2 separate regions of the Homo sapiens genome follow, and region 2 is linked to region 1. The links come from fine-mapping of genetic effects on gene expression. Tissue or cell type: lung. Region 1 holds a variant in brackets; the other region holds the start of a gene. All regions are shown on one strand. Distances are from middle to middle.

The links. PIP is the estimated chance that this variant, and not a neighbour inherited with it, causes the effect.
Region 2: LINC01081 starts here. The variant in region 1 is fine-mapped to the expression of LINC01081 in lung (TOPMed, PIP 0.98). The same link has a PIP of 0.9 or more in sigmoid colon.

What each region holds. Positions count from the first base shown.
Region 1 is chr16:86,224,487-86,226,986 of GRCh38, forward strand. LINC01081 (long intergenic non-protein coding RNA 1081) reads right to left here. Exons shown (of 6, transcript NR_104139.1): 4 at 2,154-2,291; 5 at 1,361-1,476; 6 at 1,094-1,181. Among named protein-coding and RNA genes, the nearest start is that of LINC01082, 30 kb to the left of the region's middle. The variant A/C (reference allele first, on the strand shown) is at 944.
Region 2 is chr16:86,285,092-86,287,917 of GRCh38, forward strand. It overlaps LINC01081 (long intergenic non-protein coding RNA 1081), which reads right to left and starts at 1,156. Exons shown (of 6, transcript NR_104139.1): 1 at 963-1,156. LINC02135 (long intergenic non-protein coding RNA 2135) reads left to right here and starts at 1,340. Exons shown (of 3, transcript NR_038438.1): 1 at 1,340-1,458. RefSeq lists an enhancer at 60-745.

The DNA of each region.
Region 1 (2,500 bases):
CTACAACTCAGTTCCTCATCTCCAAAATGGGGGTGTCTGTCACAGCAGTACCCCTCTCACGGTTCTCCTTCGGGAGACTCAAACAAAATAATGCACTTAAAACTCTCAGCTCAGTGCTCTACACATGGTCAGGGTCAAATGTATTTAGCTCTTATGACTGTTATTGTTGCTGTTACCATTGGTGTTGCTGTTGTTGGTGATGGTGATGGTGTTGGTGTGTTAGTGTTGTTGGTACTGTTGGTGTGTTGGTAGTGATGGTGATGGTGTTGGTGTTGCTGTTGTTTTTGGTAGTGACGGTGTTGCTGTTGGTGATGATAGTGTTGTTGTGCTGGTGTTGGTGCTGGTGATGTTATTGGTAGTGATGGTGTTGTTGGTGTTGAGGGTGATGGTGTTATTGGTGTTGGTGATGGTGTTGTATTGGTGTTGATGATGGCAATGTTGGTGATGATGATGTTGATATTAATGATGTTGATATTATTGTAGTTAGTAGTGATAAAGTTGTTGGTGTTGGTGGTGATGGTGTTGTTATTGGTGTTGTTGATGATGATGATGTTGGTGGTGGTGGTAATGGTGGTAAGGATAAAGGGCAGGGGAGGGGAATGCAGACCTGATGCTAGGGCCAATCGCATTTGAAGGTGGCTCAGCCTCTGGTCTGACCAAGGGTCACTCCCTTTCATCCTCTCTGACCTTTAGAGCTTACAGCACCCCACCTCATTCCCACTACCTGCCTCTCTCTTTCTCCTTAAAGCCTTCCCTGGACCTTCCAGCCCTCACCTTCCTTCAGCCTCTGAATCCCTGAGTGGTAAGAACTCCTCACACAATTGCACATCACCTCTTTTTCCTCTTACTCCACTCTTGTCAGCAGTGGGACCTCAGAGTGCCAGCCAGAGCAGACACAGGGGCTTTGGGGCAGCTGATGGAGTGGCCTTAACTCAGTCTCTTA[A/C]CTTTTTTGATCTCGATTTCCTCCCCTGTGCAGAAAGGTGATAAGGAGACTTTCTCCATGGGGCTGAGAGCCAAGAATCCCTACTTGGAGCAAAGTCTGTCATCTTAGTTGTTTGTAACTCCAACTCCCAGGACCCAGCACCATATGGAGCACATGGTAAGGGCCCAATAAATGTTGGACATAAGGAATATAAGAGAATGAAAGGCTGGGTCTGTATTTCTGGGTGGTCTCTTCATTTCTTTCCAGAGAGAGAGAAAAAGAGAGAGAGATTGTTGTGTGGATTTTATGTGAACACAGCAAAGATTACTTTCTGTGAGGAGGTGAGGGTCATCCACCCACCCACCACCACCCATTCACCCATTTATTCATCCACCCTTCCACCCATTTGTCCATCCATCCATCCATTCATCCACCCACCTGTTCGTTGAAATCATATTCCCATCAGGTGCCAGGCACTGGCTAGTCTGGCTTTGAGGATTCAGCAGTATTTCAGCACCTGCTATCTCAGAACCAAGGTTGGCCCAGAGGAGACCCTGTGGAATGTTTGTTGAATGAATGAGTAATTTTTCTTCTGAAACCAAAATGGAATGCTTTTATATTTTGAATGAGTAATTCTTTGAGTAAATGAATGGATTGGTGAAACAATAAGTGGTGTTGGGATAGACTAGTTCCAGGAATCCAACTCCATTATCATCTCAGGCCTCTGATATCTTGGCTCTTTGGCTCTGTCTGTGATTGCTTGGCAGCTTCAGCACTTGTCAGTCTCTCCCAGGAGGAGGGCAAGCCCTGGGGCTGGCGGGTTGAGAGGTGTCTTCCCAGGGCACATGGTGCTGCTCAGTGACTGGGGACTGTGCTCTTTCTACACCTTGTGGGCCCTTCTCCAAAGGACCCACCCCCCAAGGGGACCCTTGTCCATGAGTTGCTTCCTCTTCTCCAGCCGAACCAGTTGGTTTCTAGCCCACCTCCGGCCATCAGTGCAGAGCAGGGCTTTAGGGAGTTGGGGCACCCACCCTCAGTATTCCACTCTCTTCTGCATGAGGTAAATCTCCAGTCATCAGAAGAAACAATAAGATGAAAAGCTGACCACATTGTAATGCTCATTAGCACAAAAACCCACAGCTGCACTTGATATTGGGGGTGGTAGGGGGGAAGGCCAGGAGGGGAGGCAAGGGGGTCCTGTGGATTGCCCACCTGTAGCCTGTGAACTCACCAAGTGCATTGAAAGGGGAGCCTCGTTTGTTAAGTAGATGATGATCAATGCCACATCTGATGCCCGATTGGAATGGGACAGGCCTGGAAAGGGCCTGATTGGGATGAGCAGTGTCTAGGGTTCCGTCTCCACCTGCACCTGCAATGGGGTAGGGATGGAAAGGGGTGGGCACACTCTAGGCATGTTTGGCTCTATCTGTAGTGGGTGACCCAGCCTTCCCATCATGCCACCCTTTCTCACCACTCCTGTAGGAGCCCAGACTCCCTGCTTTCGAATCTCAGCTCCTTTACTGCTTAGCTGCAGGCAGGTGAGGCCCAGATCCCAGGAGAGGGATTAGACCCAAGCTG
Region 2 (2,826 bases), 61 kb after region 1:
CCCATCGGTGAGATGGAGGTTCTCTGCTGCTGCATTATGGGGGTGGGGGTGGTGTGGGAAGGGTGCCAGGGATTGGGCACAGGAAAGCACCCCCAGCCCAACTGCTGAGCTGCCAGAAACCTGGAGAGTATATGAGGTGCCACTTTAGGGCATTCCCTGTTTCGTTTCAGGGTTCCTGTATGGAACCTGAGACCACCAAAGGCACGCTGTGGTGCCGAGACCCAGTGCCTGCCTCTCTCAGTAGCACTGTTCCAAAGCCATCAGCTCTTTCCTCCCCTTCCCATCCCCCACCTCTGGACTTAGTTCATGAATCTCCCTCCCCTATTCCCTTCTCCTCTATTGGGCCCACCCAGCTCCACATAGTTTTAGCTCCTGGTACCCTCCAGCACATTCTACAGAGACCCCAGGTCTGTGCTCCACACTCCTGCCTTTCATCTGGGTTCCCAGAAGCTGCAGGGACAACAGAGACCACCTTGTGCCCCACCCACCTTCCTGGGTGGACACCCAGATGCTAGGCTCTGAGACCCCTTCCTATGGAAGCACAAAGTCCCCCCTCCGGGCTGGGCCGCCCACCACTGTGCTGTCCACACCTTCCGGAGGGAGGCAGGTACCTGTGGGTAGAGCTGGGGAGCCCCAGCGCACCATTTCAGGACTTGGAGAAAATAAAATAACCTGGTCGCACCTCAGTTTGCATATCAGTGAAGTGCGATGATAAATAGTACCTTCCTCCCAAGGTCAATTGTGAGGATTAAAACAGAATATTCACAAAAGTCCGTAGCTCTCTAGACTATAAGCGCCTGCTTCATTCGTAGCAGGTGCTGTGACTATTATCATGATTATTTCACCCTAAAACACTTTGAATAGGACAGCGGAAAGACCCTTGACCCCTCCGGGGACAATCCAAGAGCCCCTTGGCTAAAACAGAGCCATGAAGCCCCACTAGGCTGGGCTTTGAGACTAACCTCACCACCACCCTCAACCTGGTGACCCAGCACAGGTTCGCTGTCTCGCTGTGTAGCCCCGGGTGTAATCCATGTCTGGAGATAGAACACTGGAGCTCAGTGGGGCCTGAGCTTTCTGGAGTGAGGGTCACCGCAGGGCATGCACTGGAAATCCAGATCCCTGGGCCGCTCCCTGGGAAGTTCTGATCTAATATGTCCAGGCTCCTTCTGGGATCTGTTTATTAAGCATCAGGATGATTCATATGACTCCGCCGTTGGAACACTGGAGCCTGCGCGGGTGTCAACGCTTGTTCACTTGTTACAGGTGAGGTCACCCCTTTGTCACGCACCTCGGGCCCTGCGCCCTGGTGGTCCAGGGCTGGTGCGGGGGCTTAGGTGCAGCCTCTCCCACGTGCACCTGCGAGGCCTACCCTTTCTCCCGTCTCAGGGCCTTGATGCCCGTGCCTGTGAAGCTGGCATCAGCGAAGACCTCAGACGGGAAGGGATGAGTGAGCAGGTGTGCCCCCAGGGACCCCACGCGCCCCCCGCCCCTTCGCGCACCGAGGTCGTCCTGCGTCTCCGGGATCCCAGGCCAGCGGGAGGAGGGGCCGCAGGGGCGCTGCGGGCAAGGGGAGCCCAGTGCGCAGGGCTCCAGAAACCCCGACCCTCGCAGGGGAGAGCCAGCCGAACCAGACGTGTGGGGGCAGCAGCCGCCGCGGCGGTCTGGGACGCGGGTGTCGCCTTCCACGGGACTTGGGTCCAGGGACCCAAGACGGGGATCTGGGAGGAGGGGGATGCCCTTGGGGCCTGAGACCCGGGCGGTTTCCGAAGCGAAGTAGTTACCCAGAACCGCTCCCTACCTTCTCCCCGCCTCCCTGTCTTTCTGCCCCTCTGTCCCCTGCAGCTGCTCGGCCCTCCCTCCTCTGAAACCCACCGCCCGCCCAAGGCTCACTCCTTCCTGCTGTTCCCGCCCGCGAAGCTGTTGCAGGGACGGTGCGCCCTTGGGCTGCACTCACCACCGCCCCTCGCCCGCGACGTCCTGGCCCCCTAACCCCAGCTTTCCCGCCGCCGCTCACTCCCGCGCTCCGCTGCAGCTCAGCCCGGTCTGCAACTCTCCCTCTGTTTTCTGCCCCGCTCCTCAGTTCTGCGCTCTCCTCTTCTCCAGGCTTCCCTCTCCTCCTCCTTCTGCCTCTCCCCTGTCCCCGTTCCATTCTCCTGCGCCCCTCGCCAGCGCGCTCGCAGCCCATCGGCTCCTGCCGGGGCCCCTCTGGTGCCAGCCGCCTTCAGGCTGTGGGTCCGTCCGCTGGTGGAGGGGAAGGTCGGGGCTGGCCCCGGGCCCCGCGCTGCTGGGCCCCATGGTCAGTGGAGACGCCTCCTGGTCTCCCTTCAGAGCTCCTCGTCGTCGTCGGAGTCATCGGAGGACCAGGAAGGAGGACCCCCCACCAGCTGCCGCAGCCTCTGCTGCGAATCCCCCCACACCACACCTCTCACCCCAGAAGCACAATTATCATTGCCCAGCCCCTTTCAGACAAAAGGAAGAGCGCGGTGGGGATGATCAGAGGGAACCCTGACTCAATTCATGGTGTGCGTGCGTGCGTGCGTGCGTGTGTGTGTGTGTGTGTGTGTGTGTGTGATTGATTGATTGATTTTTAACTAGAGGGGAAAAATTCCTAAGAAAATGGGCAAAAATTACAGATTGTCCCATTTTTGTCCAGTATTATCATTGGAAAGGGAGGAAGATGAAGAAAGAGCCAGTGTTTGTGGAGTTTGTTTCAGGCTAGAAATAGAAAAAGGCTGCAGTTGATTAAGGAGGTGGCCAGAGAAGCAAAGTTTGTTGAACGCTGAAGATCACCTTGTAAAGGTGGAGTTCCTCAGGCTTTACTCC